Linked DNA regions of Homo sapiens: all the other regions are linked to region 3. The links come from fine-mapping of genetic effects on gene expression. A gene starts in region 3. Each other region holds a variant in brackets. All regions are shown on one strand. Distances are between the middles of the regions. Region 1 overlaps TRAPPC3L (trafficking protein particle complex subunit 3L). Region 2 overlaps TRAPPC3L (trafficking protein particle complex subunit 3L). Region 3 holds the start of RWDD1 (RWD domain containing 1).

Evidence for each region. PIP is the estimated chance that this variant, and not a neighbour inherited with it, causes the effect. A credible set is the group of variants that fine-mapping cannot tell apart.
Region 1: its variant is the best candidate, but not a certain one, in a credible set for the expression of RWDD1 in monocytes (TOPMed, PIP 0.52).
Region 2: its variant is the best candidate, but not a certain one, in a credible set for the expression of RWDD1 in skeletal muscle (GTEx, PIP 0.56).

The regions. Positions count from the first base shown.
Region 1 is chr6:116,529,766-116,532,265 of GRCh38, reverse strand. The region is part of intron 3 of TRAPPC3L (trafficking protein particle complex subunit 3L); the gene reads left to right. It also overlaps a transcript of CALHM4 not described here. Among named protein-coding and RNA genes, the nearest start is that of TRAPPC3L, 15 kb to the left of the region's middle. The variant G/T (reference allele first, on the strand shown) is at 1,522.
Region 2 is chr6:116,500,100-116,502,599 of GRCh38, reverse strand. It overlaps TRAPPC3L (trafficking protein particle complex subunit 3L), which reads left to right. Exons shown (of 5, transcript NM_001139444.3): 4 at 1,934-2,119. Among named protein-coding and RNA genes, the nearest start is that of CALHM5, 10 kb to the left of the region's middle. The variant G/A (reference allele first, on the strand shown) is at 1,314.
Region 3 is chr6:116,569,890-116,572,742 of GRCh38, reverse strand. It overlaps RWDD1 (RWD domain containing 1), which reads right to left and starts at 1,239. Exons shown (of 7, transcript NM_015952.4): 1 at 1,088-1,239. The coding sequence starts at 1,160. RefSeq lists enhancers at 985-1,084, 1,305-1,634, 1,665-1,844 and a silencer at 1,185-1,264.

The DNA.
Region 1 (2,500 bases), 40 kb after region 3:
GACAAAAAAGAGAGAAAATACTAGAAGAACTTTTCACATCTACACCCTGTTGCTCCTCCTAGTCTGTCCAGAAGAGGGCAGTGCTCCACATTTGTCTTTAAATGAAAGACTCCTACCCTGTCTGCTCAATACTAACACTACATGCAGAAGCAGCCCTCTTATTTCAAGCAATTTTCATTACACTGAAAATCAGTGCTCTAAAAGTACCTGGTTGTTCACAATAACAAATCCACAGCAACAAGATTTAAACTGCGGTAGGATCCTGAACAGGACAATAACTGATTCTTATTAAATAATGACAGCGAACTCAACTTGGTAATTTTATTGAAACATTTGTTTTTTCCATTATTGTTTATTATATTATATTTTAAAATTAAATATAAATTAAATATAAATAAATTTTAATTATATTAAATTGTATATTTATTATTGTTTTTTCCATTATTTATTATATGAGTGTAGAAGGTTTCAGAAGAGGGATATTCATTCTGCTACTCTGAGGTCAACTGTGATTTAAAATGCAAATATTAAGTAGGTAACCAAATCATTACATAGTGCATTTCATATTATTATGGAAAATGCTTGAAAATTATCCTAAAATTCATCATGGAGCCAAATTGTGTTAGGTAGACTCCTTTAGGTTACCAGCATTTGGTTTATGTCAGACCTTTAGGGTTTATTGTAGAGATATTCTGGGACACGATAATCAGACCCCATGAAAGAACCAAAATGGGAAAATCCTTACAGTTTTAGTCTATCTTGAACCCTCAGCAGCAAGTCTTTGTGGTTCTCTACTTCAGTCCTGTGCCATTTTCATGACTCAACCCTTCTCTGCTTGTTCTGCTCTTATAATTACCTACTAATATCTTTCCATTTTTCTTTTCCTTCTCTCCACCTCACTGCTTCTGGTGTTTCACAGTTTTTGTTGCCTCATGGCTTCTGCTTACTCTCTTTTCTCTGGGTGTCATTTGCATTCTGCCCAATCACCCAAACTGTGACTTTCTCTATGTGTTTCATATTTAAAGTCCCAAAAAGAGAGTCTTTAACCTGTCCAGCCAATCACTAGCCCTGTGTTAAGTAGAGTTTCATGCTAGGTCACTTCCAGGGCTCTAGCCAAGCTATGAACTGACTGTCCAGGCTCACAATGCCCACCCTAATCCATTAACTGTGGCCAGAATGGCAGGATAATTAGATAGAACATGGTGATCATAGGGAGCCCCTCAGGAAGGGAATCTGGGTATGAAAAACATTCCAAGATTTTCCAAAACAGGGCAAAGTAATTGACAAATATCTTGTTCTTCTTGTCTAGGAAATTAGTAACATATATATATATATATATATATATATATATATATATATATATGAGTCTCACTTTATCTATGAACCTTCTGCTCACATTATTTATGTTACTGATGCTGGTGTTTGTTTTTCTTTGTTTCAGAGCTAGAATTTGGGGCACGTAACTAGTGTTGCAGACTCCATTTAGTATGCTAACTGTAAGGTATTGAAGTAGACAAAACT[G/T]TCTTTGTTATACATTTGCAGATAATAATAAAGAAAGCAAACACTTCAAAATAAAATGACTCTGCACTTGGAAGCAGTCAAGTGAAACCACATTGTTAATGCAAAGTAAATATTTTAGACCATTAGCAAGAGTGGGGCAGACATTATTCAGAACAGTGAGCTCAGAGGAACGCTTTGGTAGAAGGGAGATAACTAAATTCTCCAAAGAAAAATGATGTTGTGCTACAATAGGTAGTATTAGGTTTCCCTTTGAACTTCTTATAAAGGAACCAATTACAAAAGTTTGCTCTGGTCATCTAATCCTGTGGGGCTTTTTCTTTTGTTACTCTTTTTTCTAAGTCTTTTTCAGTCCTTTCTCTTGACATTCTGTGTGTTTTCTTTTTTCAAAGAATGTTAGCAGAGACAATCTGATTTTTAATGTGAATAGGAAAAGTGCCCAGATGAAATGAACTTAAACCAGGGCATTCAAGTCAGAGACAGTAACATATCTTAGGCTGTTTTTTCCTTTTTCTTAAAAAGGAGGGGGGGTGGTTTGTTCCTTATGCTTCTGTATTTTACTTACTTTGCTTTTTTTTTCTAATTATATTTGGCTTCCTTCATTTTCTAAATAACATGCATCTTAAAAACAAATACTTCTCTAAAAGTCACCATATTTCACAATTCTGGGTCTAAGTCTAGATGTAATGCACCCAGTATGATGCACAACACTTGAATTTTGCTGCCATCATAATGCTGTGCATAAAATGGGGAGGCATTTTTTTTCCTGTCCTCTGAATGTTCTTTCTTTTACTAGGATGAATATGTAAAACTCAGTTTTAGAGTTGCTTTCCATTCCTCAACCCTCTTCCGCACACACTCCTCTTACACACAACTTACTTTATGGTATAGGCTCAGAAATGCAGCCTGGGGGCCATAAAATAAAAGACCTGGAACCTGTTTATTTTCATTCAATCTCTGCCCTTCACTTGGTTAAAATCTC
Region 2 (2,500 bases), 70 kb after region 3:
CCTTCATTTCAACCTTGGTGAATCTGACAATTATGTGTCTTGGGGTTGATCTTCTTGAGGAGTATCTTTGTGGTGTTCTCTGTATTTCCTGAATTTGAATGCTGACCTGCCTTGCTAGGTTGGGGAAGTTCTCCTGGATAATATCCTGAAGAGTGTTTTCTAACTTGGTTCCATTCTCCCCGTCACTTTCAGGTACACTGATCAAATGTAGATTTGGTCTTTTCACATAGTCCCATATTTCTTGGAGGCTTTGTTCATTTCTTTTCACCCTTTTTTCTCTAATCTTGCCTTCTCACTTTATTTCATCAATTTGATCTTCAGTCACTGATATCCTTTTTTCCACTTGATCGAATCAGCTATTGAAGCTTGTGTATGCTTCATGAAGTTCTTGTACTGTGGTTTTCAGCTCCATCAGGTCATTTAAGCTCTTCTCTACACTGGTTATTCTAGTTAGCCATTCGTCTAACCTTTTTTCAAGGTTTTTACCTTCCTTGCAATGGATTAGAATGTGCTTCTTTAGCTCGGAGAAGTTTGTTATTACTGACCTCTGAAGCCTACTTCTGTCAACTTGTCAAATTCATTCTCTATCCAGTTTTGTTCCCTTGCTGGCAAAGAGTTGTGTTCTTTTGGAGGAGAAGAGGTGTTCTGGTTTTTGGAATTTTCAGCTTTTCTGCTCTGGTTTCTCCCCATGTTTGTGGTTTTATCTACCTTTGGTCTTTGATGTTGGTGACCTATGGATGGGGTTTGGTGTGGATGTCCTTTTTGTTGATGTTGATGCTATTCCTTTCTGTTCGTTAGTTTTCCTTCTAACAGACAGGCACCTCAGCTGCAGGTCTGTTGGAGTTTTCTGGAGGTCCACTCCAGACTCTGTTTGCCTGGGTATCACCAGCGGAGGCTGCAGAACAGCAGATAATTGCTGCCTGATCCTTCCTCTGGAAGCTTTGTCCCAGAGGGGCACCTGCCTGTATGAGGTGTCTGTCAGCTCCCACGGGGAGATGTCTCCCAGTCAGGCTACATGGGGGTCATGGACCCACTTGAGGAAGCAGTCTGTCTGTTATCGGAGCTCAAACACCATGCTGGAAGAACCACTGCTCTCTTCAGAGCTGTCAGGCAGGAACGTTTAAGTGTGCAGAAGTTTTCTGCTGACTTTTGTTCAGATATGCCCTGCCCCCAGAGGTGGAATCTAAGGAGGCAGTAGGCCTTGCTGTGCTGCGGTGGGCTCCACCCAGTTCAATCTTCCCTGCCTTTTTGTTTACACTGTGAGCATAGAACCGCCTACTCAAACCTCAGCAATGGCAGACACCCCTCCCCCC[G/A]CCAAGCTTCAGCATCTCAGGTCGATCTCAGGCTTCTGTGCTAGCAGTGAGCAAGGCTCCATGGGCGTGGGACCTGCTGAGCCAGTCACAGGCTCGGGAGGGAATCTCCTGTTCCTGCAGATGCGAAGACTGTGAGAAAAGCTCAGTATTTGGGCAGAAGTGTACAGTTCCTCCAAGTACAGTTACTCATGGCTTCCCTTGGCTAGGAAAGGGAAATTCCCTGATCCCTTGCACTTCCCACATGAGGCGATGCCCTGCCCTGCTTCGGCTCACTCTCCATGGGCCACACCCACTGTCCAACCAGTCCCAGTGAGATGAACCAGGTACCTCAGTTGGAAATGCAGAAATTACCCATCTTCTCCATTGATCTCACTGGGAGCTATAGACTAGAGCTGTTCCTATTTGACAATCTTGGAAGTGACTCACAAGTAAAAATATTTAAAAATTTCACATCATAGGATCAATAAATTGCAAAGCTAAGGGTGAAGCCGGACTTCCTGACTATAGACTCCATGTGCTTAACCATTGTGCTGCAATGCCTAGAACTGGGTATTTGTTTAGTCTGCTCATAGTTATTTGTTCTAGACCAAGTTTTAGTAATTTTGTTTTTTTCTTATCAGGTTGCTTTCAAGATGTACCTGGGAATTACACCAAGTGTGACCTGTAACAATTCAAGCAAAAATGAATTTTCCCTGATTCTAGAGAAGAATCCCCTGGTGGAGTTTGTGGAAGAGCTCCCTGCTGGGCGATCTTCTCTGTGCTACTGCAACTTGCTCTGTGGGATTATCAGAGGTGCCTTGGAAATGGTAAAGTTGAATAAGTGAAGAATGAATGAAGAATCTCTTAGTCCTTCTAAGGCTAAAATAAGATAACCAATATACATAATTCATTTTGCTGGGTATATTGGTTATCTAATGGTGTGTTACAAATTACCCCCAAAATGTAGCAGCTTAAAAAAACAAACGTTTATTATCTCACACAGTTTCTGAGGATCAGAAATCTGGGAGCAGCTTAGCTAAGTGGTTGTCATTCAGAGTCTTTCATGGCTTAATACACATGCAGTCAAGCTGCTGGCCAGGGCTGCAACCTCTGGCGACTTGACTGAGGCTGGAGAATCTACTTCCAAGCTCACTCACACAGCCCCAGTGCCTTGCTGGCAGTTGGCAGGAAGCTTCATGAAGTTCCTG
Region 3 (2,853 bases):
TAATATACCTTACACTATAAATTCTGACTATCAACGATAGGCAACACTCAAAGGAAAGGATGGGGAATGTAAATGCACACACCTAGGTTCTACTCACTCATATTGGCTTTATTTGACCGCTTCTCAAATCTCAGAGGAGCCATATTGATATAGTTATGTAGCATTTTTATAATCATCCGAAGCATGGCTTAATAGAGAAATCTCGTCCTCTAAATTATACCTAATGAACTTCTCATTATAATATTTTACATTAGCCCAACCTACCAAGTAATCTTCTGCTCTCTCAATCTCAGCTGGAGCTGAATCCCAAGTCCCATATGTCTGGAAAGTGAAAGAACAGGCAAGCGTTCTGGACGTATAACTCAGTACCAGCCCTGCCGCTAACTCGCTGGCGGACAGTACAGAGCAAGCCACTTAGCTTTCCTGAACCCCCATGACCTTGGCTTGGAGCAGGAGCCCCAGGATAGATGATGTTTAATCTCCCTTCCAATCTAACAACCTATGAATTTATAGCAGAACGGAAATTTGGGCCACATTATCCATTAGGCATTCTGCTGAATGCCAGATTTTTTTTTTTTTCATAAGAAAAGAAACCCGACAGACTTCAGGGACTATGCTACTCTCAAAACCGATTTGAGTAACTGAAAACAGCACTCTGAATCCTATAAACTAAAACAGCATCGTATGAAAAACAGTTTCTACCTTAATAAAGCTAAAAATGTGAAAACTAACATTCTTGCGGCTGTGGAAAAACGAATCGCACTTGGAGTATTTTTTCTCTTAATGTATTATAAATCTCAGGTTGCTGTAGGTTACACAGAAACCAAAGTAATCCCGACTCAATTTTCAGGCCTGACACCCTCCAACATCACCCGGACTTTTAGATTTCCGGGAACAAGCAGAGAAGGAGAAAAAGTCACTGGGTTGCTGGTAAGTGACTGAAGAACTTGAGGAGTGGAGGGCAAGGTGGCCGCGCGGCCTCAAGGTCCCCTTCTCCACCCCAACCTATGAGGCCCAGAGCTGCGGCAGCTCCTGCCCGTCCTACTCCACCTCGGGGCGGCTACAGGCTTGCGGCCGCGGGAGTCACCTGTGAAGGAGTCAGGGTAGATGGACTCCAGGGCCTCCAGCTCGTTGCGCTGCTCCTCGCCGTAATCTGTCATCGTGGCCCTTGCTCTTGCCCATAGATCGCCCAGACACCTAGGCGGCGCGCAGCAGCCCAGACAGCTGCCGCGCCGGGAGAGCGGGCGGCGGCCAGGCGGGCGCAGGCGCAGAGTCCCCGGCTGGAAGGCCCAGGGCCCAAAGCCAGACCCGGCTTGCTTAACTGCAGCTCCGCGCCGGCCTCCGCCTGCTCCCTACTTCCACGTTCGACTCGTTCTGCCTGGCCAGGGGGCACTGATTTGCTGCCTGTCCCACACTCGCTCGGGACTTGCTGGGACGGTGCGCGCGGTCTGGCATTCGCCAAGGACACCTACAGCCGGCTCCTGGGCTTTGCAGGGCCTGAGCCTTAGAAGCCTCTCAGCGCTGCATCCTCGCTCGATGAGTCTGGGCTGAAAGGCCGGCATCGCGCGTCAGTGAAGGATAGTGTCGCTGGTGGCCGGGCTGGGGCGAGGGGCGTCCGATGCCTTCACCTTTTCTGGTTTCCGGTTTGACGCCGTGGCGTAGGTGCTGCGGGCTTGCAACCTAGTGTGGACTGGTGGGGCTCAGGAGATTTCTGAGCTTCTCGAACTCCGTATTGCTTGGCGTCCTACGGGAGTTGGACGAGAGGCTGGGACCAGTGTAGATTCCACTGGGCAGGGGAGCAAAAGCTCTGCACTGCCTTGAATGAGTATGGAAGGGTCGGTCTAACTGCTTAATAAGTCGGGGTGGATCCAGGAGGGAGAAATAGACCGGAGGTCCGGCTTCTCGGTTCAGATCTTTAGGCTTAACTTCTGATTTTGTGAAATGAACGCAGCTGGACGTATGATAGATCTCAAGATGTCTGTGATTGTGTATTTGTGAATTGATGAAAGGAATGTAGATCTCAGTAATAACAATTATCATATGCAATGTAAAAATTGCAGTACCCCGAGAAATGTTGAGAACCTTTAATTTGGTAATACGACTTCCAAGAATAAACTTGAGCAAGTAGCATGCATCTGTGATCTCCAAAATCATTGCAGCAATTACAAAGAAAATTTTCAAAGAACCATGATGGCAAAAGCTAAGAAAATGGCTAAATAAACATGGTTAGCTTTATGAAAATGATATTAAAAACTATGGTAACAATAATAAAGGATCCCATGTTCCTTTATTATATTATTGCGCTAAGTCGAAAAATGGAAAATTTTAAGAAAATACTCAAAAGCTGTTGCCCACTTTTCTGTATTTTTCTTTGTTTTGATTTCTCTGTATTAAAGCTGGTTTCACTGGTATAGTGGGAGGAACACTTTTTAAATGAAAGATTCCTAATGATGAAGCCCCTGAAGCACCAGAAGGCACCTTGATCTTTTATTGAGGAGTGCTGCTTACCTATAGCAGAGGAACACTTTGATACTGATTCCGTGTTTACGGTATTAAGGGTTGATTTCAGGCGTTCTTTTAAACTTTAATGAAAAAGTGGAGTCTCCTAACTATGATGACAATCAAATAAAATACATAAAGTAACTTTGCAAGTATAAGTTGCTCATTTTTTTTGGATCGCCTCAGTTCAGAGGAATTATACTGATTTATTATGAGGAAAGAGCTGCCAGAGGAAACAGCTAGTGCATTAAGTCCTAAGTGGGGAGTCAAGGATGATTTTTGGCTGGAAGAACTGGAAAGACGAAGTTCTGTTGACCAAAATAAGTGAGGAAGACAGAATCAAATTTGGCAAGG